Linked DNA regions of Homo sapiens. The protein of the gene in region 7 purifies or fractionates together with the protein of the main gene of each other region. This does not show direct contact. Each region holds a gene or a part of one and is shown on either strand. Other genes may lie near its edges. The genes, in order: MSMO1, NT5C3A, TPM3, RABL3, ITM2C, ORC4 and MFSD8.

What was found.
Region 1: the proteins of MFSD8 (region 7) and MSMO1 purify together in Homo sapiens (affinity purification with mass spectrometry; one large-scale study listed by BioGRID and IntAct). This does not show direct contact.
Region 2: the proteins of MFSD8 (region 7) and NT5C3A purify together in Homo sapiens (affinity purification with mass spectrometry; one large-scale study listed by BioGRID and IntAct). This does not show direct contact.
Region 3: the proteins of MFSD8 (region 7) and TPM3 purify together in Homo sapiens (affinity purification with mass spectrometry; one large-scale study listed by BioGRID and IntAct). This does not show direct contact.
Region 4: the proteins of MFSD8 (region 7) and RABL3 purify together in Homo sapiens (affinity purification with mass spectrometry; one large-scale study listed by BioGRID and IntAct). This does not show direct contact.
Region 5: the proteins of MFSD8 (region 7) and ITM2C purify together in Homo sapiens (affinity purification with mass spectrometry; one large-scale study listed by BioGRID and IntAct). This does not show direct contact.
Region 6: the proteins of MFSD8 (region 7) and ORC4 purify together in Homo sapiens (affinity purification with mass spectrometry; one large-scale study listed by BioGRID and IntAct). This does not show direct contact.

The regions. Positions count from the first base shown.
Region 1 is NC_000004.12:165,330,669-165,334,168, reverse strand, and holds part of MSMO1 (methylsterol monooxygenase 1), read right to left. Parts: intron 830-3,500; 5' UTR 799-829; coding exon 544-798; intron 1-543. UniProt on the Homo sapiens protein: Catalyzes the three-step monooxygenation required for the demethylation of 4,4-dimethyl and 4alpha-methylsterols, which can be subsequently metabolized to cholesterol.
Region 2 is NC_000007.14:33,028,277-33,031,776, reverse strand, and holds part of NT5C3A (cytosolic 5'-nucleotidase 3A), read left to right. Parts: intron 1-2,062; exon of another isoform or gene 2,063-2,148; intron 2,149-3,500. UniProt on the Homo sapiens protein: Nucleotidase which shows specific activity towards cytidine monophosphate (CMP) and 7-methylguanosine monophosphate (m(7)GMP). CMP seems to be the preferred substrate.
Region 3 is NC_000001.11:154,185,601-154,189,100, reverse strand, and holds part of TPM3 (tropomyosin alpha-3 chain), read left to right. Parts: intron 1-1,658; exon of another isoform or gene 1,659-1,843; intron 1,844-3,500. UniProt on the Homo sapiens protein: Binds to actin filaments in muscle and non-muscle cells. Plays a central role, in association with the troponin complex, in the calcium dependent regulation of vertebrate striated muscle contraction.
Region 4 is NC_000003.12:120,704,517-120,708,016, reverse strand, and holds part of RABL3 (rab-like protein 3), read left to right. Parts: intron 1-1,902; coding exon 1,903-2,017; intron 2,018-3,500. UniProt on the Homo sapiens protein: Required for KRAS signaling regulation and modulation of cell proliferation. Regulator of KRAS prenylation, and probably prenylation of other small GTPases. Required for lymphocyte development and function. Not required for myeloid cell development.
Region 5 is NC_000002.12:230,877,345-230,879,748, forward strand, and holds the end of ITM2C (integral membrane protein 2C), read left to right. Parts: intron 1-55; coding exon 56-206; intron 207-663; coding exon 664-755; 3' UTR 756-1,904; downstream 1,905-2,404. UniProt on the Homo sapiens protein: Negative regulator of amyloid-beta peptide production. May inhibit the processing of APP by blocking its access to alpha- and beta-secretase.
Region 6 is NC_000002.12:147,947,738-147,951,237, forward strand, and holds part of ORC4 (origin recognition complex subunit 4), read right to left. Parts: intron 488-3,500; coding exon 314-487; intron 1-313. UniProt on the Homo sapiens protein: Component of the origin recognition complex (ORC) that binds origins of replication. DNA-binding is ATP-dependent. The specific DNA sequences that define origins of replication have not been identified yet.
Region 7 is NC_000004.12:127,944,674-127,948,173, reverse strand, and holds part of MFSD8 (major facilitator superfamily domain-containing protein 8), read left to right. Parts: intron 1-3,500. UniProt on the Homo sapiens protein: Outward-rectifying chloride channel involved in endolysosomal chloride homeostasis, membrane fusion and function. Conducts chloride currents up to hundreds of picoamperes.

The DNA.
Region 1 (3,500 bases), about 37 Mb from region 7:
AGACTTATTAAATATCTCATTAAGTATTTTTTAGAATTTGATTACTGATTGAAATAATAATTTACATTTATTTCTTATTTTTTTTGAGACAAGGTCTCACTCTGTCGCCTATGCTAGAGTATAGTGCTGCAATCTTTCTGCTTCAGCCTCATAAGTAGCTAGGACTTACATCACCATGCCTGGGTATTTTTGTATCTTTTTTGTAGAGACAGGGTCTTGCTATGTTTCCCAGGATGGTCTTGAACTCCTGGCCTCAAGCAATCCTCCTGCCTTGGCCTCCCAAAGTGCTGGAATTACAGGCATGGACCCTGCACCCAGCGATAGTTTACATTTATTGAGCTAAATGATACACATTATGAAATTAATTTCCTTATTTCTTTTTACCTTTTCTATGTATTCTACTAGAAAATTTAAAATTACATACGTGGCTTCATATTTCTATTGGATATCACTGCTTTAGCCTCACAAAACAAAGCCCTATGTACTTTTAAAATATTCAGCAACATTAATGATAATATTCTATTTCTAGTCCCTTATACTCACCTTTTGAATTTTGTATTTTTTCATATAAGGTATAAATTGAAATAAAAATCCAGGTAAACAGAATAAGAAATAAAGGGCTTCATGAACTATAAGGGATCCCCATGTTGCAATCTGGAACTTTGTATAATTATTCAACATATAGTTCCAAGCATTTTTAAATGGTTCTTGCAGAGGATTCTCAGGTAAAAGTGAATCTACATATTCCACAGCCAAGGATGCTGAACTAAAGATGCTGACACTTTCATTTGTTGCCATTTTTCAAATCTCTGCAGACAGCCTTATAATTCTGTAGAAATGAATACATATATAATAAGTTAAACAATGAGCTTTCAAAAAATAAAACAGTTAAAAAATGCATCCTCTGATCATTTTAAAAATGATAATTACTAAAGGAGTATAAATTTTTTACCAAAAAATTACTAAAGGAGTACAAATGGTTTTACACCATTTTAAAACATTTGCTGGATATCATCACCATTTCTATTTGTAGATATTCCTTTAAAAAACACATTATTTTCAAGAACAATAGCTAAAAGAACAATAGGGGAAAAATTTTTTCAAGCTATATTTAAAGAAATCGTCAGTGTGGTTCTCATGGAAAAGGTTCTAATTTAAATGAGCAATAGCTGGGTTTAAAAGTATCACTTAAAGCCAAAAGAACCTATAAAGAAAAAGCCTGCCAAATATGAGTATATAAAAATTAAGTACCTCCTACTGGGGAATAGAAAGACAAAGTCAAAGATTAAATGACAAACTGGGAAAAATATTTCCAACATTTTACAACAAAGGGCTACAAAGTGTGCTTTAGAAAAAAGACTAAAAAGACAACAGAAGAACGACAAATGCCATTCACAAGCAGTTCACAGAAAAATAAAGGCAAATGGTCACTAAACAAGGAAGAATCTTCACTTCATTAAATGAGGAAATGCACCCTAAAACAAAGAGACACTTTTAGCCTGAGTAGCAAATCTTTAAAAGCTTATTAATGTCCAGTACTGGTAAGAGGGTGAGAGAACAGGCATGACCACACACTGTGGGCAGGGGGGATACATCAGTGTATCATTGGAGGAAAAATTAGCAACACCTAATTCAAAATGAATACATCCTTTGATCCAGCAACTTTCTCATTCAAGGGTACAAAGACAGATCCGCTAAGATGGAAGGAAGCATTGCTTGTAGCAGCAAAAACAAAGAGGAAAAAATAAAAGCAAAACACAAATAAGCCATCAACAAGGTATGGGTTAAATAAATTAAGTCCTTCCATAGACAATTATACAGCCATTTAAAAGAACAGGGAAGATCTATACGCTCTACATAGAAAGATGTCTAAGATACAGTGTTAATCCAAGTAACAAGTTACAGAACAGTATGCATAGCAAGAGCCCCACTTAAGATTTTTTGAAAAGGATATGTATTTTATCTATGCACTTTTATGCATATGTATATACACAGACACACAGAAACAAAAAATGTACATATGGATAAAGGGAAAAATTCACACTGGTGACTTCTAGGAAAACAGAGTTGTGTGGCAGGGCAGGAGATAGTGTTAATGAAGACAGCGTGGCGGGGTAGGGGAGAGTGTTATGGAAGACAGCTCGGCGGGGTAGGAGACAGTGTGGTGGAGTAGGGGACAGTGTTATGGAAGACAGAGTGGCGACGGGGTAGGGGAGAGTGTTACGGAAGACAGAGCGCGGCGGGGTAGGAAATAGTGTTATGGAAGACAGAAAAAAAAATCTGACATATGTCTTTTGCACAATTTAAACTTTTTAAATGAGCATGTTCTACTTACCTAATAAATAAGCTCAATAGGTCACTAACCAAAAAATAAACTTCTCAAGGGTCACTTTCCTAAAAATGTTCACCACTGCTGCTTCTAATTTATGAATTTTTTGGACCATTTTAAAAATGAGTATTTTAAAGCCTCAGAAGCATTCTAAATAGTGCTTTAAAAGTCCCCTTCCCCAACACTTCTCAAACTGACCTTTTATCCCATTCTACAGAAGGAATATTGAGAACCTAGCCAACTCCTCCAGGCATCTGAATTCACTTCAGGCCGTCCTCCTTCTGTCCTACTCATCTCAAATGACTTACACCACAGTGACTATAGTGTTCCATCCTGTGTCATTACAGGCCTTAAAATTTCTTTGCTCATTCATTCTTTCCTCTAAGACTGACTAGTCTTCCTGTGTTCTTATCTTACCTCAAGAACTTGTCCATCACTTATCCTTTCCCATCTTTCATCCTTCTCCCTTCATGGAATCCATTCCTTCAGGTCTAAAAACACATTCACGTCTTTTCTTTTTTTTTTTCTTTTTTTTTGAGACAGGGTCTCACTCTGTCACCCAAGCTGGAGTGCAGTGGCACAATTATGGCTCATTGCAGCCTCGACCTCCCAGGCTCAAGCAATCCTCCCACCTCAGCCCCTCGTAGCTGGGACCACAGGCACATGCCACCACGCCTGGCTAATTTTTTTAATTTTTTGTGGAGACAGGGGTCACCCTATGTTGCCCAGACTGGTCTTAAACTCCTAGGCTCAAGTAATCCTCCCATCTCAGCCTCCCAAAGTGTGGGGATTATAGGTGTGAGCCACTGCGCCCAGCCTACATCTTCCTTTGTTGATAAACACCTTCCTAGCCTCCATTACCTCTTCCAAGCCACTGTCCCATTTATCTTTCTTTGAACCAACCAACTTCTTTCTCAAAGGAGAGCTCTACATAAAGATTGCTTAACTCAGCTGGGCATGGTGGCTCACGCCTGTAATCCCAGCACCTTGGGGAGGCTGATGCGGGCAGATCACCTAAGGTCAGGAGTTCAGGTGAATCGCTTGAAATGAGGAGGTGGAGGTTTCAGTAAGCTGTGACTGCACTCTAGCCTGGGCACCAACAGCAAAACTCCGTCTCAAAAAAAAAGAATAAAAAAGGTTGCTTAACTCACCCACACAACTCACTGAGCTA
Region 2 (3,500 bases), on a different chromosome or scaffold from region 7:
AAAAGTACAAGTAATTTTTTTAGTCTTGGTTAAAATATGAATTGTTTTCTCTGTACATTGTGGATTGTATAACCCTTAGTTTATTTTGTTTTTTATTTTTAGTTTAAGAATAATAATTCATTATTTTAAATATAATGTATTTATGTGTGTTTTTTAATACAAAATCTTTTTATTTATTTATTTTTTTTTTGAGACAGGGTCTCACTGTGTCACCCAGGCTGGAGTGCAGTGGCATGATGTCAGCTCACTGCAACCTCTGCCTCCCAGGCTCAGGCAATCCTCCCACCTTAGCCTCCGAGTATCTGGGACTACAGATGTGCACCACCATGCCCGGCTAATTTTTGTATTGTTTGTAGAGACAGGGTTTTGCCACGTTGCCCAGCCTGGTCTCGAGCTGCTGAGCCCAAGTGATCCTCCTGCCTCGGCCTCCTAAAGTGCTGGGATTACAGGCATGAGCCACCATGCCCGGCCGTGTTTTCTTTTTTAATCAAAATTTAATATAATTTGAAATCTAGTTCAAACAGAATTAAACTTTGAAGTTGTCATAATCTCATCCTGGAAATTAGGATTATCCCTAGTCTGGAATATTATCATTGGATTGATGATACCAAGCCACACCCAGAAATTTGGTAACTGTACTATGGAGCTTCTCTCTTTTTTTTTTTTTTTGTTTTTTTTTGAGGCAGAGTCTCGCTGTCGCCCAGGCTGGAGTGCAGTGGCGCGATCTCGGCTCACTGCAGGCTCCGCCCCCCGGGGTTCATGCCATTCTCCTGCCTCAGCCTCCAGAGTAGCTGGGCCTACAGGCGCCCGCCACCTCGCCTGGCTAATTTTTTGTATTTTTAGTAGAGACAGGGTTTCACCGTGTTAGCCAGGATGGTCTCGATCTCCTGACCTCGTGATCCGCCCGCCTCAGCCTCCCAAAGTGCTGGGATTACAGGCCTGAGCCACCACGCCTGGCCAGAGCTTCACATTTTTATCTTATCCCAGTGTATCCACAAGATCATATCAAATCTAATATTAAACAATTGAGTTGTGGATAAAATGGCATAACTTTGAAATCCATTTCATCTCTATAAATATATTAAGTATTGGTCAAAATAAGTGAATTTTAGGTCTTTCTTAATCATTTTTGGTGTTGATTCAGATTGGCATCAATCAACCAACATACCCTGATTCTTTTCAGGAAGGCATTGCTCCCTCCCCAACATTTTACGCTGCGGCTTTACCATAAAATGAATTTGTTCTCTTTTTATCACAAATGATGGAAATTTTTAGCTTCTTATTTATTTTTCATAAAATTTTATCATAATCAAATTGAAAATTTTTCAGACAATTCAAAATACCTTGCCCTTCAAATTTGAAGTATCATTATTTATATGCCACCAAACCAAGTCTGTGTTTTTATAAGAGGGATATAGACAGAAGGACTTTGTGGAGGTAACAAAAGTATGTGATCTCATGCAACAGTTGGGGCATGTTCAACAACAACCACCACAACAAAAAGTATGTGATGTATTTCATCATACTTCTACAGTGTGCTTATATTATGATACTCTTTGACATATTCCATACAGGAGTCTTTGATTCTCTTTCTTAGGCTATATTGTAAAGTATTTGAGTAAAATACCCCATATCTCAAGTTCTTGTGAAGTATTTCTCATATAGATCAGTGACATTAATTGTGTATTGCAGGAGAGGAGTATAGTATACTATATAACCCAAGACAGATAGAATGGTCATTTTTATATTTCTTATACCTATTTCATCATTATTTTACTCCCGTGCCATTTGTGTATTCACTACTTATGAATACACAATGAAAATGAATGGTTGTATGTTGCACAGGAGCCACCAATGCCTTTAGCTACTGGTTCTCTTTCATCCATTGTGATTTAAAGTAAACCAGTATTGGCTGGGCATGGTGGCTTACACCTGTAATCCCAGCACTTTGGGAGGCTGAAGCGGGGAGATCACTTGAGCCCAGGAGTTTGAGACCAGCCTGGGAAACACAGCAAGACCTTATCTCTATAAAAATAAAATAAACCAATCTTACATTTGTTAGTGTAGCAGAAACCAGCCTTCTTCGAAGTGGTCTTGGTGTGATTCTCCTATCCGTTATCAAAAACTTGAAGCTGTGATTTGCCTGAGGTAAGACATCTTGGGTACACTGAAATCAAATATTTAATTTTTTTGGTGAAAAAATAGTCTATGATATATATCCTGTGTTGCTTTCACCATAATGGATTGGTTATTGAATCAAACATATGCTGATTGCTGTGCATCTGCCAGTTAAGGCTGAGGTAAGAACAGAAATTAGTTGTCAAGAGATAAACTTACTAGCTGAGGTATTTGTAAGGGAGTTACAGAAGTGATATTCCAAAACAGCAGTGGTCCCTAAAACTCAGCAGAAAAGCAGAGTAAATACTACTCATCATCATATCCCTAGCATTTAGCAAGAGTGTGTGGCACAAAGTAGACACATGGTAAATATTGGTTAGGCGAGTGAATGGGTTAATGTATGAAAAAAAAAAATAGGAACCAGTGCCTATCTGCCTTTCCATCTATTGAAAAATCACTATAAAATACATAGATAACCTTTAAGCCATTGAAACTCATCCAGTTGAGTTAAAAGGATTACTACATCAAGGTTAGTTGCATTGCAGGTCATCCTACTTAAATATGGCTTTTTAAAATTAAATATATTGTAGGTGGTAGATCTTTCATCCATGGAGAAAATTTTAATGTTAGCATTTGTCTTTTCTCTACACTTTCTTTTTTTTTTCAAGCTCTGCCTCCCGGGTTTACGCCATTCTCCTGCCTCAGCCTCCCAACTAGCTGGGACTACAGGCACCCGCCACCACGCCCAGCTAATTTTTTATGTTTTCAGTAGAGACAGTATTTCACCATGTTAGCCAGGATGGTCTCGATCTCCTGACCTCGTGATCTGCCCACCTCGACCTCCTGAAGTGCTGGGATTACAGGCGTGAGCCACTGTGCCCGGCCTCTTTCCTCTACACTTTCGTTATCATCTTCCAGTCTTTGGAAGACAGTCCATCCTTTTTCTGATTTTTCTACTCTTGCCCATTATGTAGGAACAACACGGCATCTGATAGATTTACGTGGTGAGATTCTCTTGTAGCAAAGATAGAAGGTCCAGGGAATTTTTGTAACCATGTCCATGACACACATGAACTATGTTAATATTACTAATAACATACCCAGAATAAAAACATATAAATAAAGATTATCCAGTACAAACCAGTATAGAACTTGGATTTGAGGTACTATTATTGCCTATGCTGTATAACTGACTATAAAATGAGGCATAATTTTCTCCTTCTAGTTGTATTGTACATGTGCTATGAGAGCTTGTACTGATTTTTCCTCTAATCAGTTTCATTCTATTTGTGATAAAATAGCTAGTAACAAGAAATAATACTTAAGATTAAATTGTTGAGCAACCCTAAAGTCTTCATAACTCTGTAGTAGCAGCCTACACC
Region 3 (3,500 bases), on a different chromosome or scaffold from region 7:
GAATGCAGTGGCAAGATCTCGACTCACTGCAACCTCCACCTCCCGGGTTCAAGTGATTCTCCTGCCTCAGTCTCCTGAGTAGCTGGGATTACAGGCAGCTGCCACCATGCCCGGGTAATTTTTTATATTTTTAGTAGAGACAGTGTTTCACCATGTTGGCCAGGCTGGTCTCCAACTCCTGACCTCAAGTGATCCACCCACCTTGGCCTCTCAAAATGCTGGGATTACAGATGTGAGCCACCATGCCTGGCCTCTGCCATTAGGTTTCTGATCTGTTTTGTTTTCCACCACTTTCAGTGGCCAAGGAAAGTGGTAAGAATTGAATATATTATGCCAGAGGTTAGAAACACAAACTAAATATACATCATTTAAACTCATTCTTCCAAAAGTTAAGGCCAGCACAGGCTTTTTTTTTTTTTTTTTTTTGAGACGGAGTCTTGCTGTGTCACCCAGGCTGGAGTGCAGTGGTACGATCTTGGCTCACTGCAAGCTCCGCCTCTTGGGTTCACGCCATTCTCCTGCCTCAGCCTCCTGAGTAGCTGGGACTACAGGTGCCCGCCACCGCGCCCGGCTAATTTTTTGTATTTTTAGTAGAGATGGGGTTTCACCGTGTTAGCCAGGATGGTCTCGATCTCCTCACCTTGTGATCCGCCCGCCACGGCCTCCCAAAGTGCTGGGATTACAGGTGTGAGCCACCGCGCCCGGCCAGGCCGCCACAAACTATTAATTCTCCCTTCTTGTGCCCAGTGTGGTGGCTCAGACCTGTAATTCCAGCACTTTGCTTTGAGAGGCCAGGGCAGGAGAATCGCCTGAGGCCAGGAGTTCAAGACCAGCCTGGGGAACATAGTGAGGCCCTATCTTTACAAAAAATTTAAAAATTAGCCAGGTGTGGTGGCATGTGCCGGTAGTCCCGCGTACTCCAGAGGCTGAGATGGGAGGATCGCTTGAAGCCAGGAGTTCATGCTTGCAGTGAGGTATGATAATGCTACTGCACTCCAGCCTAGGTGACAGAGCAAGACCCTGTCTCTATTTAAAATGATAAAAATTCTCCCTTCTCAGAAAACTCAAAAAAACAAAACAAAACAAACAAACAAACAACCCTACCAAATCTACAGGTTACCCCTGGGCTTTGGGCAAGTGGATGGCTGGCTGGAGTTGTATAGCCTAGGTTCCTGGTATATTTGGATGGATCTCTCTGTTTCTAACATATGGGCATGAAGATAGAAGTTTTCACAAACTAGCACAATGTCAGGTTAATAACAGTTTTGTGAGAAATTGGGTAACATCAATCTGGGTCTGCTCTTAGGCTGAAACGGCTAGTATGTGGGCTTGAGGAGGTGTTTCCAGGAGCAAGAAAAAGAACAAGTCTAACCTGAGATCATGAGAAGGAGAATAACATAGAGGCTGTACGCAATACATCAAAATCATTAGGAATATAAAAGGATTTCCTGGGGATGAATTCTGTCTATCTTAATCTGTTTTACACATGTACAGACATACACATACACACACATAGCACCCCTCACCTAGATGTGGTCTACTCAGTATATTCATTTGAAAGAAGTTTCTTCATATTTACATAGGAATCCACCAAAACCCATTTAAATATGTAAAGTGAGGGTTAAAAATACTCATTCAACCCCTCTCCCCTTTGTTAGCTTTCCCAAGTCAGAAAGTACCCTCAGAGATATGCATAAGAACAAGAAACAGGAGAGGGAAGGTTGTGGCCAGGAGCAAGCAAGAAGAAAGGTTTCTTTCCTCAAAGCTAGAGTCAGCAAACTACCACCTGTGGGTTAAATCTTGCAACAGCCTGGTTTTGTAAATAAAGTTTTATCGGAACACAGTCATGCTCATTCTTGTACATACTGTCTACTGGCTTTCTTATCTCTCTGGCCACAAGACCCTAAAAGTTGGATGACCCCTGCCTCAAAGGGTCAAAGAAGGACAGTGTTTATAGGAATTGGGAGAGGTGCTGAATAAGGACCAACAAGGTTAAAAGCAGAAAGCAAAGGTAAGAGTCATCAGCAGCATAATATATGCATCTTTGGAGGGAGTATACTCTGTCCAATACAAAGGAAGTTAACAGCTCAGCTTCTGTCCTTGAGGTTAATAAATAAGTAAACAGAGCATATTATCTTGAAGTAGATATAAGCAGTAGAGAAGGAGGAGGGAGTCAATAACTACGTGTTTACACAAGCAGTTCTGGTTATCTGAGAAGCCTTTCTGAAAAGTGCAGGATTTACTAGGACTGCTTGAATAAAGAAAGGGCAAGGGTATGGCAAGGCGAGTCCAAACTTTTTTTTCCTCCCTAAATTTGTCTAACTTTGTTTTCTAAGTTGTGGTAAAATACGCATACATAAAACTTACCATTTTAACCATTTTTAAATGTCTAATTCAGTAGTAGCATATTTACATTGTTGTGCAACCACATCTAAGATCATTTTAATCCAAGATGAAATCAGATGCTGTTTAGGGAGAAACAAAGGGAAAGAGGAGTGCATTGTTAGGACATAGAGTCATAACACCATTTTTTAGGGACAGGTGGCAGGAAGGATGGGGAGAGAAGGGACAACGATGGACATATACACCTGTTGATATATTGTATTGCTGGTTACTAGGAACACAATAGCACTGGGCCCCTTGCTGTCTATCCATTGTGCTTCTAAAGGCTATCATGAGTCAGTCCATCTGTTTGACTGCATTAAGAGGAGATTATCTGCTCAAATCTACCAGTCTCAGAAATGCAGTGGTGCTCTCAATACCCTCTTGGTTTGGCTAGGATGAGGTCTTCTGCTGCTTTACCAGGGCACAGGGAGGTACAATAGTGCCCCCTGCTGAGCAGCACCCAGATGACAAAGTGTCACTTCTGCCACATCTTGATCAGACTTCTACAAAGCAAGTTAGAAAAATTCTTAGGCCATCAGGGTAGAGTCTATTAAGAGTCAGAACCCTGATCTTCCTTCCTAATTTCTGGGGGAAAAATCAGTGTGCAGGTTACTCTATTGAGAAAATTATTATCTATCCAAGTTGTTTCTTCTGAATAGTCTCATTGCTCGGTATTTCCAAAAGGTGATAGGAAAACAGAGGCTCTGCAGGGAGCATTCTTAGAACTAGACATTGAGGGCAGCAACTGTCTTGCCTACTATTCCTTTCAGGGATTAGGACTCTTCATTGTAAGTCCTGTTCCACATCCTAATTTTCTAGGAGAAAAGAGAGCTGTCCCAGAAGAAAAATTTATCACGATTACCTACTGGGAAGGTGGGAGGAATACAAAGAAATAAGAGGGAAGATAACGTTCTCAAGTCTCTTTACTATTGTGCTTCCAGAAATCCTGCATGGCAGTGCCTGTAGGGAAAGTTTCTTTTTTTGTTGTTTTTCTTTTTTTTTTTTTCAGACTGTGTCTCACTCTGTCACCCAGGCTGGAGTGCAGTGGCGCGATCTCGGCTCACTGCAACTTCTGCCTTCTGGGTTCAAGCAATTCTCCTGCCTCAGCCTCCCGA
Region 4 (3,500 bases), on a different chromosome or scaffold from region 7:
CCCTCTCTAATAGCCTAGGCTAGTAATCCTTCAGAAGGAAATAATGAAGTGTCTTTACTTCTCTCCCTTAAGATTAAGATATATTATCATATCACCCTGACTCCTTTCATCTCAGCCCCACCTTGATTCTTCTAGCACATGTTCTACAAAGCAATAACTCTCAGCCCAAATGAAAGAGAAAGAATAGGGGAAAAGGGTACTCAAATGCCCTTAAAAGCTCAAAAGTCTTACCTAAAGATCCTCAGTAAAGTCTTCCCTGTCCATCTAATAGCCAACTTAGGCCTTTGTAATTCTTTTACTCCCCCGTCCAAAATTCTCACCCATAGTTTTGCCATATTTATAGCCTGGGGAAAAGGAAAGGGAGAAAATATATGCCAGTTTTTTGCCCTAAAATGGAGATTTTATTCTGCTTACCACCAGTCTTTACTGTCAGATTACCTGAGTGCAAATTCTGACTTACCATGTGCCCAAGGACAAGTTACTCTACTTCTCTGAACTTTAGTTTTCTCTTGTGTATAAAGATAATAATAATTCTTCATAGGACTGTTCTGAAAATTAAATTAGATAACACATGTAAAGCACAATATTTAGTACATTAGTACTGAATAAATATTAGCTGTAGTCTTTAATGGTGGTTCTTTATTCCTTTTTTTAAATCTGTGCCACTGATGCTGATTAAAACCCCTCATTGAGGAAGGAAGAGTGGGTACAATTGGATATTAGGGCAAGTGTCAGATCTCTATTAGTTTCAGACACCAGAAGAGATGCAGGTTTATCTAAGCTGGCTGGAACAAGTCAGCTATAGCTTGTACAAGCCCTTTAGTTACACAGATGGCTATAAAAACTGTAGAAGCCAGCTAATTCTACCTCTTCTGCTTTTCTTTTTCAAATTGACACATACCACCTCTTGAAGATGGAGGAATCATTGGTTTCATGTCCTATTCACAATCTGGGTAATATAGAAAAGGGTTGGGAGTTTGAAACCTGTAGTGTTTTGACCATAAGGTGATATCCTAAATTCTAGTGGGCATCAAAGTTTTTCCTCTTTTGTCTATATCTTGCTGTAATAATTAATTCCCTGATTTTCCTTTCTATCTAGGATTTTAATTGATTCTCTTCAGTTGTATTTTAGTGTATTTCTGGGCCTCGTTACATTTTGTTATTTTTCTCAATCTATCAAAATCCGTGCATGTACTTTCTACTATCCATACTTCTTTACTATTTAATGTCTCACCCACTCTCTTATAGTGGCATATTTCTTTTGCTCTAATAACTAAATCTCTTACAGGTAGGAAGCTTACATAACTAATCATTATTCAAAGAACTAGAAAATTAGACATTTGAATAGATTAGTCTCAGATGATCTACAGGACACTATTTTGTCAGCTAAAGAATAGCAATTGTATCAAATCAGTACTATTTTAGTAGATTTTCATTACCTAATATTACTTTTAGTGAGTATAAGTAATATATGTATGTACTGGTATCTATGGCAGTACTGTGTACAGTGAAGAAACAACATAACTTTTTGAATGAATAATTTCATATGTACTTGAAGTAGTTTTGATTCTCTTGATTAATAAAGTGGTTCTACAGGTAGGAACAGGCATGGAGTAGGCACTCAGGAAGTGTTGAATGAAGTAAAGATCTGCTAAAAGTTTAATGGGATTTCGTCAGCCCTTGTAAAATAAAGAGTTATAAAACTGACAGAGAAAGGTTTATGGCTATTTATAAATATTTGTAGAGAAAATTTTAAAATAATTGTCTCTGAGTTGTTAGTCATACTAGAATGCTAGATTCATTAAGCAACCTAATGCTTCTGTTTACTAAGCTTCATTTGGCCAATTGTGAAATGAAGAGGAATTGTTAAGGGATTAACATTGTTTTCTCTGATTATTTTAGGTATTATTTTCGTACACGACTTAACAAATAAGAAGTCCTCCCAAAACTTGCGTCGTTGGTCATTGGAAGCTCTCAACAGGGATTTGGTGCCAACTGGAGTCTTGGTGACAAATGGGTGAGCCAATTTCACAATTGGTTTGAAAGATTGTAGCAATCACAGGAATGTACTTCCCTGAATAACACTTTGTAAAATGTTTGATTTGCAAAGATTTTTCTTTCAGTGTATAGATTATCTTTTCCTTTTAACAGTATCTTTCACAAAGCAATAGTTTTCATTTTGATGAAGTCTGATTACTCTTCTTTTCTTCTATGGATTGTGCTTTTGATATCATGTCTCAGAACTCTTTGCCTAATCCTAGATGATGCAGGTTTTCTCTTATGTTTTCCTCTACAGATTTTATGGTTTTACATTTTTATAGTAAAACATTTATATAAAACATTTTAAGTTTTATAGGTTTGCATTTAGATTTATGATCTAAGTTAGTTTTGTACGAGATGGGAGGTTTTGGTTGAGGTTAACGTTTGCATATGAATGTCTAACTATTCCAGCACCATTTATTGAAAAGATATCCTTTCTCCATTGAATTGCTTTTGCTCCTTTGCCAAAAATCAGTTGACCATATTAGTATGAGTCAACTTCTGGACTCTAGTTCTGTTCCATTGATCTATGTGTCTGTCCCTTCACCAGTACTACGCTGTCTTAATTATAGTCTTAAAATTGAGCAGTATGATTCCTTCTACTTTATTCTTTTTCATAATTGTTTAGCTATTATAGTTTATTTGTTTTTCCACATGAATTTTTAGAATCAGCTTGTCTATATTGACAAAAATTTTGGTTGGATTTTTATTAGAATTGCATTGAACCTATTGATCACATTGGAGAGAATTAACATCTTTATTCTGTTGCATCTTCCAGTTCATGAACACAATATATCTCTAAATTTATTTAGATCTTCTTTTATTTCTCTTACCAGCATTGTGTAGTTTTCAGCATACAAATCCTGTGCATGTTTTATTAGATTTATACCAAAATATTTAATATTTTTTAAGCTATTGTAAATTGTTTTTTTGTTTTGTTTTGTTTTGTTTTGAGACTGAGCCTTGCTCTGTTGCCAGGCTGGAGTGCAGTAGCACGATCTCAGTTCACTGCAACCTCTGTCTCCCAGGTTCAAGCAATTATTGTGCCTCGGCCTCCCAAGTAGCTGGGATACCTGGCTGATTTTTGTATTTTTGGCAGAGACAGGGTTTCACCATCTTGGCAAGGCTGATCTCGAATTCCTGACCTCAGGTGATCCACCTGCCTTGGCCTCCCAAAGTGCTGGGTTACAGGCATGAGCCACCATACCTGGCCATAAATGGTATATTTAAACTTCAGTTTCAAATTTTCCATTGCTAGTATAAAAAAAAATAGAATTGATTCTGAGTGCTGACCTGTATCTTGTGACCAGAGTTTTTTAGTACAATCCTTAGGATGCTCTACATAGACAGGTTTATTTCTTCCTTTTCAATCTGTGTGCTTGTTGTCTTATTTCTTGCCTTTTCGCACTGGCAGCAACTTCCAAAAGGGTACTAACTAGGAGTGATAAGAGTGAATATCT
Region 5 (2,404 bases), on a different chromosome or scaffold from region 7:
GGTTGGACGAAAGCCTGAGGGGCCGACTCACTGTGGCGGCCACCTTGTTTTGCAGAGGGGGACCTACCTGCCGCAGACGTACATCATCCAGGAGGAGATGGTGGTCACGGAGCATGTCAGTGACAAGGAGGCCCTGGGGTCCTTCATCTACCACCTGTGCAACGGGAAAGACACCTACCGGCTCCGGCGCCGGGCAACGCGGAGGCGTGAGTGGCTGGCTTCACCCACAGTAGCCCCTGTCCCGTGCCCCAGACCACAGTTATCTTCACGCCTAGCCCAGCTGTCAGAGAGCTCAGATAGCAGCAGCAATAACAGCTAGCATTAGCAGAGCACTTCCGTGTGCCGGGCAATGCTGTGTGCTCTTTATGACCTCTTAAGAGTGTAAGTCATTCTCATCCTCATTATTATTTTTGCTGCCCATTTTAAAGATGAGGAAACAGGTGCAGAGAGGTTAACACCCTGGAGGTCACACAGCAGGGAGGTGGCAGACATGGGCAGGCTGACTCCAGCTTTCGAGCTCTCCCCATTTCTCACTGTGCTCTTTGGGTGAATCTGGGTGAATGGTGTCACTTCCTGGCCCTCCTGTGGCTCAGGCTGAGGCTGGTGGTCTTTGTGACTCAGCCAGGATGCAGGGCTCACTGGGGTTTTTCTTTTTCCTCCCAGGGATCAACAAGCGTGGGGCCAAGAACTGCAATGCCATCCGCCACTTCGAGAACACCTTCGTGGTGGAGACGCTCATCTGCGGGGTGGTGTGAGGCCCTCCTCCCCCAGAACCCCCTGCCGTGTTCCTCTTTTCTTCTTTCCGGCTGCTCTCTGGCCCTCCTCCTTCCCCCTGCTTAGCTTGTACTTTGGACGCGTTTCTATAGAGGTGACATGTCTCTCCATTCCTCTCCAACCCTGCCCACCTCCCTGTACCAGAGCTGTGATCTCTCGGTGGGGGGCCCATCTCTGCTGACCTGGGTGTGGCGGAGGGAGAGGCGATGCTGCAAAGTGTTTTCTGTGTCCCACTGTCTTGAAGCTGGGCCTGCCAAAGCCTGGGCCCACAGCTGCACCGGCAGCCCAAGGGGAAGGACCGGTTGGGGGAGCCGGGCATGTGAGGCCCTGGGCAAGGGGATGGGGCTGTGGGGGCGGGGCGGCATGGGCTTCAGAAGTATCTGCACAATTAGAAAAGTCCTCAGAAGCTTTTTCTTGGAGGGTACACTTTCTTCACTGTCCCTATTCCTAGACCTGGGGCTTGAGCTGAGGATGGGACGATGTGCCCAGGGAGGGACCCACCAGAGCACAAGAGAAGGTGGCTACCTGGGGGTGTCCCAGGGACTCTGTCAGTGCCTTCAGCCCACCAGCAGGAGCTTGGAGTTTGGGGAGTGGGGATGAGTCCGTCAAGCACAACTGTTCTCTGAGTGGAACCAAAGAAGCAAGGAGCTAGGACCCCCAGTCCTGCCCCCCAGGAGCACAAGCAGGGTCCCCTCAGTCAAGGCAGTGGGATGGGCGGCTGAGGAACGGGGCAGGCAAGGTCACTGCTCAGTCACGTCCACGGGGGACGAGCCGTGGGTTCTGCTGAGTAGGTGGAGCTCATTGCTTTCTCCAAGCTTGGAACTGTTTTGAAAGATAACACAGAGGGAAAGGGAGAGCCACCTGGTACTTGTCCACCCTGCCTCCTCTGTTCTGAAATTCCATCCCCCTCAGCTTAGGGGAATGCACCTTTTTCCCTTTCCTTCTCACTTTTGCATGTTTTTACTGATCATTCGATATGCTAACCGTTCTCAGCCCTGAGCCTTGGAGAGGAGGGCTGTAACGCCTTCAGTCAGTCTCTGGGGATGAAACTCTTAAATGCTTTGTATATTTTCTCAATTAGATCTCTTTTCAGAAGTGTCTATAGAACAATAAAAATCTTTTACTTCTGACCTTGACTTGAGTGTGGCTGGAGGGGAGATGGGTGTAGGAGGGGTGCTCCGGGCAGGGTCGAGGAGCTGGACCTCGGGAGCAGCAGGCAGGGAGAAGCCTGCAGACCTTGACATCTGGCCCCTAAAGAGCTGGGCATCCTGGATTCAGCCAAGGAGTGTAGGATATCCCCTTCGTAGCACCCTGGATCTGAGCCAGGTAGAGTTCACACTTTCCGGGTGAGGAGGGGAACAGGGCTGGGAGAGCTTACCGACTCGCCCAAGGTCGTGCTGCTTTAAGTGCCTGTAAACCACCCTGTAATGTTCTACCTGGCAGATGACATCATTATTGCATGTCCTTAAGCACAAGGGCGGTGTCCTATTCTCCACCACGTCTGGACAATTTGTAACCATTCCTGGAGGATCTGAAGTGAGGTTTGGTGTGATAATCACAGGGTCACATTCTCCAGAGAATTCTGGAAGCGGCAGGAGAGCTGGCCAGAGCCATGTCTAGGTGGACCCCA
Region 6 (3,500 bases), on a different chromosome or scaffold from region 7:
TATATAAAATAAAATTATCTAAAATATAAACCACATACAGATAAAACTAAAGCCTCATTAAAGTTTACTTCAAACTAATAACATAAATCCTAAAGCTTAACTGTGATGTTCTTTTGAGATAGAATTTAGGAGAAATGACATTTCAACTGTCTAAGAAGAAAATTTTTAAAAAGTATATAATTTGTATTACTGCAGCATTATCCTTCAGCAATATTAGAAACTTTGTGTTAATTTACTAATTTCTAAAATTTGTGTTTTAATTGCTTTAAATCATATAGCAAGGAACATTTAGCTTTATTGCCTTTTAAGATACCTGAACATTTTCATTCCACTTCTCAGCAAAAACCTTGTCTGGAAACTCTGCAGGTAGAGATAACTGTTCTTTAAATATTTTAACATACTGTGGAAAACCAAATGAATTCATTAAGTGTATCTGCCGGTGAGAAAATCTTGACTTCACTCTTTTTTCTAAGAGTTCCAAAATATCCTTAAAAACAAACAGAAATCTCTATAAGGAAGATGAATGTTTTTAAAAAAACAAAAACACTGTACCAATGTTAGAGGTATAAGTAAACTATCACCTATAATTAGTAATGTTTAGTCTACAATACATAATTAAACATTTAAAACATTTTATGCAAACTAAATAATCCACCTCCAGGCATTTGCTGGCTTGGTGATGTCATGCCTTTTTCCCACCATGTTACTCTCAGCTAATCTGTAACATTCCAAGACCCAACATGACTGTTTAAAAAAACTGACAATATTGAATAGCTATATGTCACAATAACACCAAGAGTGTCAATAAGGAATTCTGTACATTCTATGAAGAACTGAGATTAAAAAATTAATAGCATGATAGGCAGCAGGAACCAACTTTAGGAGAGGAAAGTGGCAGAAATGCAACATGGCATTCGTAAGTTATCTTCCGGCTTTTTTTTTTTTATAGTAATGCTTTTAGACTCTATTTGTATTTGTGCTATTTTTCCTTAAAAAGAAATCAGGAATCAAATTTACTGTCAAAGAACACTAAAAACCAAAGGATAACTAATATGTACTGCTTGTAAGGACATACGAAGTGTTCTTAAATGAAGAAAATACTTCCACAAAACTGATAGGCATTCAAACTATCCAAGACATCAAAAGCACAATAGGTAAGCTGTCTTCCTAAGTCACATATATTGCAGGAACTGTCATTCCTAAATCTCTTTTTAATAATGAACTTGAGCAATTTTTCAAAATATATTATAGTACACAGCATATTATATATAATATATATAATTTATATTATATATGTATATATACATCTATATATATACAGTATAGTATAATATATATTTATTACTTAAGTTACACTCCAAGGTATACAACCAAGACAAATGAAACCAGATAACCACAAAAAAAGTGTATGTGAATGTTTGCAGCAGTATTATTTTTAATAGCTTAAGAAATATAAACAACCCAAATGTCCATCAACTGATGAATGGATAAACAAAGTGTGGTATATCTACACAACAGAATATTATTTGGTAATAAAAAGGAATAAAGGGCTGATATATGCTGTAACACAGATCAACTCTGAAAACATGTTAAAGAAGCCAGTCACACAAAACTATACGTTGTATGATTCAAAAATTACTAAACAGTCAGAAAGTGGATTAGCAGATTAGTGGTTGCATAGGGCTGGGGAGGGAACAGGGGATTTGGGGTGATCACTAAAAGGTACGTGGCTCTTAAACTGTGGTGATAAATGCACAACTCTATGAATAAACAAAAACCCTGTTAATTGTATAATTTAAATGAGTGAGTTGTATGGTATAAATTACATCTCAATAAAGCTGTTTTAAAAACAGTGACATGATATTTGATGACTTTAAGGAATTACAGCTAATATAACAATTATATTAGGGAAATATATTTTTAAAGAGCTCTTATCTCCTAAAAATACATTCTAAAATACTTACTGATAAAATGATATAATACCTAGTTTTTGCCTCAAAATAATACAGGAATGAAAGGAGATGTTGAGGATAAATAAAATTAGTCTGTAGTAATTGAATCTTGGCAATGAGTGGAGAAGGGAATTCAGGGCTCATTATTTATTCTTTCCTATGTATATTGTTGAAATGTTATAAAGATTTTTAAAAGGGGAGTAGTTTAAGCCCAGAAATATACATCTCCACATCTAGCCAGATGACTCTCATAATACCTACGTGAAGAAATCATGATATAGAGGAAAGAATTCAAGTGATCAAAATGGGATCATGGTTAGTTTGGGAAGGTGGACAGGAAAGACTAATAGCCTGAGGTAGGAGGTGGGAGGGTGAATAAAAAATTTTGAATGTTTTTATGAGGTCAAAGAAAAGTATAGTGCCAGCATGAGAACTAAAAGACAAGAAAGGTTATATTCAGAGATTCAGATATTGTACATTTATTTTCTATTAAGAAAGAGTTCTAGGTCACCCATATAGGTAGACAGTGGAAGTAATAATCTATACAAGCAACAATTCAGACCCTAAATTTGGGAATGAAAAGAGATGGAAGTAAATACTGTCTTTGTAGTAGGCAGTAATGACAGAAGTTGGCAATGTGGGCATACAGGAACTAGTAAAAACAAAACAAAACCAAAAAACAAAAATGGAATTACTCCCAATGGGGAAGAAGATGCTTGCTGGCAAAGTCACTACTCCCTCTATACTTTTGTTCTCTCCCTATAAACGTGGATACACAGATAAAATTATACTTGAGGCCAGGCGCAGTGGCTCACGCCTGTAATCCCAGCACTTTGGGAGGCCAAGGGGGGTAGATCACGAGGTCAGGAGTTCGAGAGCAGCCTGGGCAACATGGTGAAACCCCATCTCTACTAAACATACAAAAATTAGCCAGGCATGGCGGTGTGTGGCTGTAATCCCAGCTACTCGGGAGGCTAAGGCAGGAGAATTGCTTGAACCCCGAAGGTGGAGGTTGCAGTGAGCCGAGATTATGCCATTGTACTCCAGCCTGGGCGACAGAGCAAGACTCCATCTCAAAAAAAAAAAAAAAGAAAAAGAAAAAAAATTACACTTGAAAGAACTACACAGTTGGAGAATTATATATATACAATAAAAAAGAACATCTGATAACACTGCTAAGAAGTTACTGGCATTTTATTTGGTCCGTTATTGGGTCAACAACACTCACCACAGCCACTTCCACCCAAAGGAAGATTTTTTTTTTTTTGGCAAGAAGGAGGATGCTTCTTTGATCCTTGTCATCGCCTGCTGCTTTTGGCAAGGAGGAATAAAGATATGTGGAGCACCAGCCAGTGATGTATGAGGGATGTTTATACTAAAGCCATGTATCATAAGCTCTAGAGCACAGGAAAGGAGGGGCAAATGACAGTCACTCTATAGAGAAACAGCACTGGAAGGAGGACTGTTGAAATATGAATTAGAAAAAAGTTTCACTTTTCTGAAAAAGAAAAAGGGTTGTAGGAAAGGAGATGTGAACATGTAAATGTG
Region 7 (3,500 bases):
CTGCCCTGTTCATACCCAACTAGCTACCTAATGTAACACAGTCACTTCTTAAAGGTCCTACCTTTCAATATTTTAATAATATTAATTTAAATATTAATTTCCAAAAAATGAAATTTGGGGGACACATTCAAACCATGGCACCACCTCTTAGCTTCTGTGACATTTCTCTATCCTGGCTTTCCTCTTAACTCTAATGACTTATTCTTAAATTCTTTTGTGTATTCTTCCTTATCAGTTTATCCCTTGTTGGTTTTTCTATGAGGTTGGAGAGAGAGTGTGTGTGTGTGTGTGTGTGTGTGTGTGTGTGTGTTCACACGTGCATATGTGTGTTTTATCCTAGATTCTGAACTTTGTCCCATATTAGATGTATAGCCAACAATTTATTAGATAAATCCATGGTACTTGGATGAACCCAGGCTCCTCAGGTCTTTACACATTTGTCTCCCTTTTTACTGGAATGCTTTTCCTCTCTCCATCTTTCTTTTGCTCTCCCCTTTCTCCTTCCTCACTGTCTTTTATTCACTCTTCAAGGTTTTGCTCCAGTGTCACCTCCTCTGGAAAGCCTTCTCTCTCTCTCTGTTTTTTTTTTTTTTTTTGCAATGGAGTCTTGCTCTGTTGCCCTGGCTGGCATGCAGTGGCGTGATCTTGGTGCGCTGCAATCTCTGCCTTAAGGGTTCAAGCGATTCTCCTGCCTCAGTCTCCCAAGTAGCTGGGACTACAGACGCCAGCTACCACACCCGGCTAATTTTTGTATTTTTAGTAGAGACGGGGTTTCACCATACCGGCCAGGCTGATCTCTACCTGACCTCAGGTGGTCCACCCACCTCGGCCTCCCAAAGTGCTGGGATTTCCACCTCCTGGGTTCAAGCGATTCACATGCCTCAGCCTTCCAAGTAGCTGGGATTACAGGCACCCGCCACCATTCCTGGCTAATTTTTATAATTTTAGTAGAAGTGGGTTTTCGGCATGTTGGCTAGGCTGATCTCGAACGCCTGACCTCAGGTGATCCTGCCTCAGCCTCCCCAGTTGCTGGGGTTACAGATGTGAGCCACTGCACCTGGCCTGGAAAGGCTTCTCTCACTGTCCCTCACAACAATTTGGGTCAGAAGCTTTTCCTGTATACTCCCGTTTCCCTTTATCATTAGCCCTTAATATGGAGTGTCCTAACACTGTATTTACAGAGAGTTTACTTAACTCCCCTACTAGATTGTCTAGATTGTTAGGATTGTTTTTTTTTTTAATTTTTGTGGTTTTTTTTGTAAATGGAGTCTCGCTCTGTCACCCAGGCTCGAGGTCAGTGATGCAATCTTGGCTCACTGCAGCCTCCACCTCCAAGGTTCAAGTGATTCTCCTGCCTCAGCCTCCCAAGTAGCTGGGATTACAGTCGTGCACCACCACGCCCAGCTAATTTTTGTATTTTTAGTAGAGACAGGGTTTCACTGTGTTGACCAGGCTGGTCTCAAACTCCTGACCTTGGGTGACCCACCACCTCAGCCTCTCAAAGTGCTGGCATTACAAGTGTGAGCCACCATGCCCAGCCCAGTTTTTACGAATTTCTACTTTTTGAAAATGCTCTCCTAAAATATATTTTTAAAGGAATATAAGAAGAAAAGAAATACAAATTTTACTTTTTACTGGTTTAGTGCCATATTTTCATTGCTATTTTGAAAATAATATTACATGAAATTATTACCCATTACACTAAAAATTCTTTCCATGCTGGTAGTCATTGGAATTGGCACAATTCTGGAGCAACGTCTTCTCTACTAAAAAGATATTTTCATGTATCAAAATTCTTAATTTCTTGGCATTTAGTCTTTTTAGTCAAAATTCTCAAAAGAAGGATATTAGTAGTGATTAGGTCTACTCAGCATACTATGTTGAGTTTTGAAAAGTACTCTCTTTTCTCCAGATATTTTGAAAACTCTTTAAAGAGTCTTGCTATCAGGCCCAGTGCTGTGACTCACGTGCCTGTAATCCCAGCGCTTTGGGAGGCCAAGTTGGGAGGATTGCTTGAGCCCAAGAGTTCAAGACCAGCCTGGGTAACGATATAAGACCTCGTCTCTACAAAAAAATTTAAAAAGTTATCTGGGTATGGTGGTGCTACTCCCTGTAGTCCCAGCTGCTTGGGAGCCTGAGTTGGGAGGATTTCTTGAGCAAAGGAGTTTGAGGTTACAGTGAGCCAAGATTATGCCACTGTATTCTGGCCTGGGTGACAGAGCCAGACCCTGTCTCAGAAAAAAAAAAAAAAAAAAGTTTTGCTTTCAAACCACTACACATTTAACATTAAAATTGAGTTTTCATTGCTTTTTTGAAAATTAAAATTTTATGTAACATGAAATTATTATTTTCTATTTTAGTAGAGATGACAAATGAAGCTAAAGGTAATACAGGAAGAAAATGAAAACCAGAGTACCTAAAATGAAAGATATTTTAACGGCTAGAACTTTAAATATTATGTATCATTATACTTTTGCATATTATTTCTTATTTTTTTCATAAAGAAAAACGCACCTAAATATTTTCACTTTAAATATCTTTAGGGAATTACCAGGCACGGTGGCTCACACCAACAATCCCAGCACTTTGGGAGGCCAAGGCAGGCAGCTCACCTGAGGTCAGGAGTTAAGAGATCAGCCTGGCCAACATGGTGAAACCGCGTCGCTACTAAAAAAAATATAAAAATTAGCTGTGCCCACGTGGTGGCACATGCCTGTAATCTCAGCTACTTGGGAGGCTGAGGCAGGAGAATCGCTTGAACCTGGGAGGTAGAGGTTGTAGTGACCTGAGATCGCACCATTGCACCCCAGCCTGGGCAACAAGATCAAAACTCCGTCTCAAAAGTAAATAAATAAATAAAATAAAATAAATAAATAAATATCTTTAGGGAACAAAAGGTCATAGTTTTCCTTATTAAATTGTTCTACCACTTATCTATATTTGTTTAAATTTATTTCCTAAAATTTAATAAAAGCCATTAAATAGGAAGATTAGAGATAGAATCTTCCTATGTTGCCCAGACTGGAGTGCAGTGGCTTTTCACAGGTACAGTCATAGTGTGTTACAGCCTCCAACTCCTGGGCTCAAGGGATCCTTCTACTCTAGACTGCTGAGTAGCTGAGATTACAGGCATGGGCCACTTCGCCTGGCTTAGCCTACCACATATGAAAAAAAGTAATCTGGCTGAGTGCGGTGGCTCATGCCACTAATCCCAATATTTTGGGAGGCCAAGGTGGGAGAATTCCTCCCTCCCGCGGCAGGAGGATTGCTTTGAGAGTTGGAGGCGGGAAGTTCAAGACCAGCCTGGGCAACATAGGGAGACCCTGTCTCTACAAAAATAAAAAAATTAGGTGGGCATGGTGGTGCATACCTGTAGTCCTGGCTACTCAAGAGGCTGAGGCAGGAGGATCACTTGGGCCTCAAAGGTCGAGGCTGCACTGAGCCGTGATCGGACCACTGCGCTCCAGCCTGGATGTCAGAGTGAGACCCTGTCTCAAAAA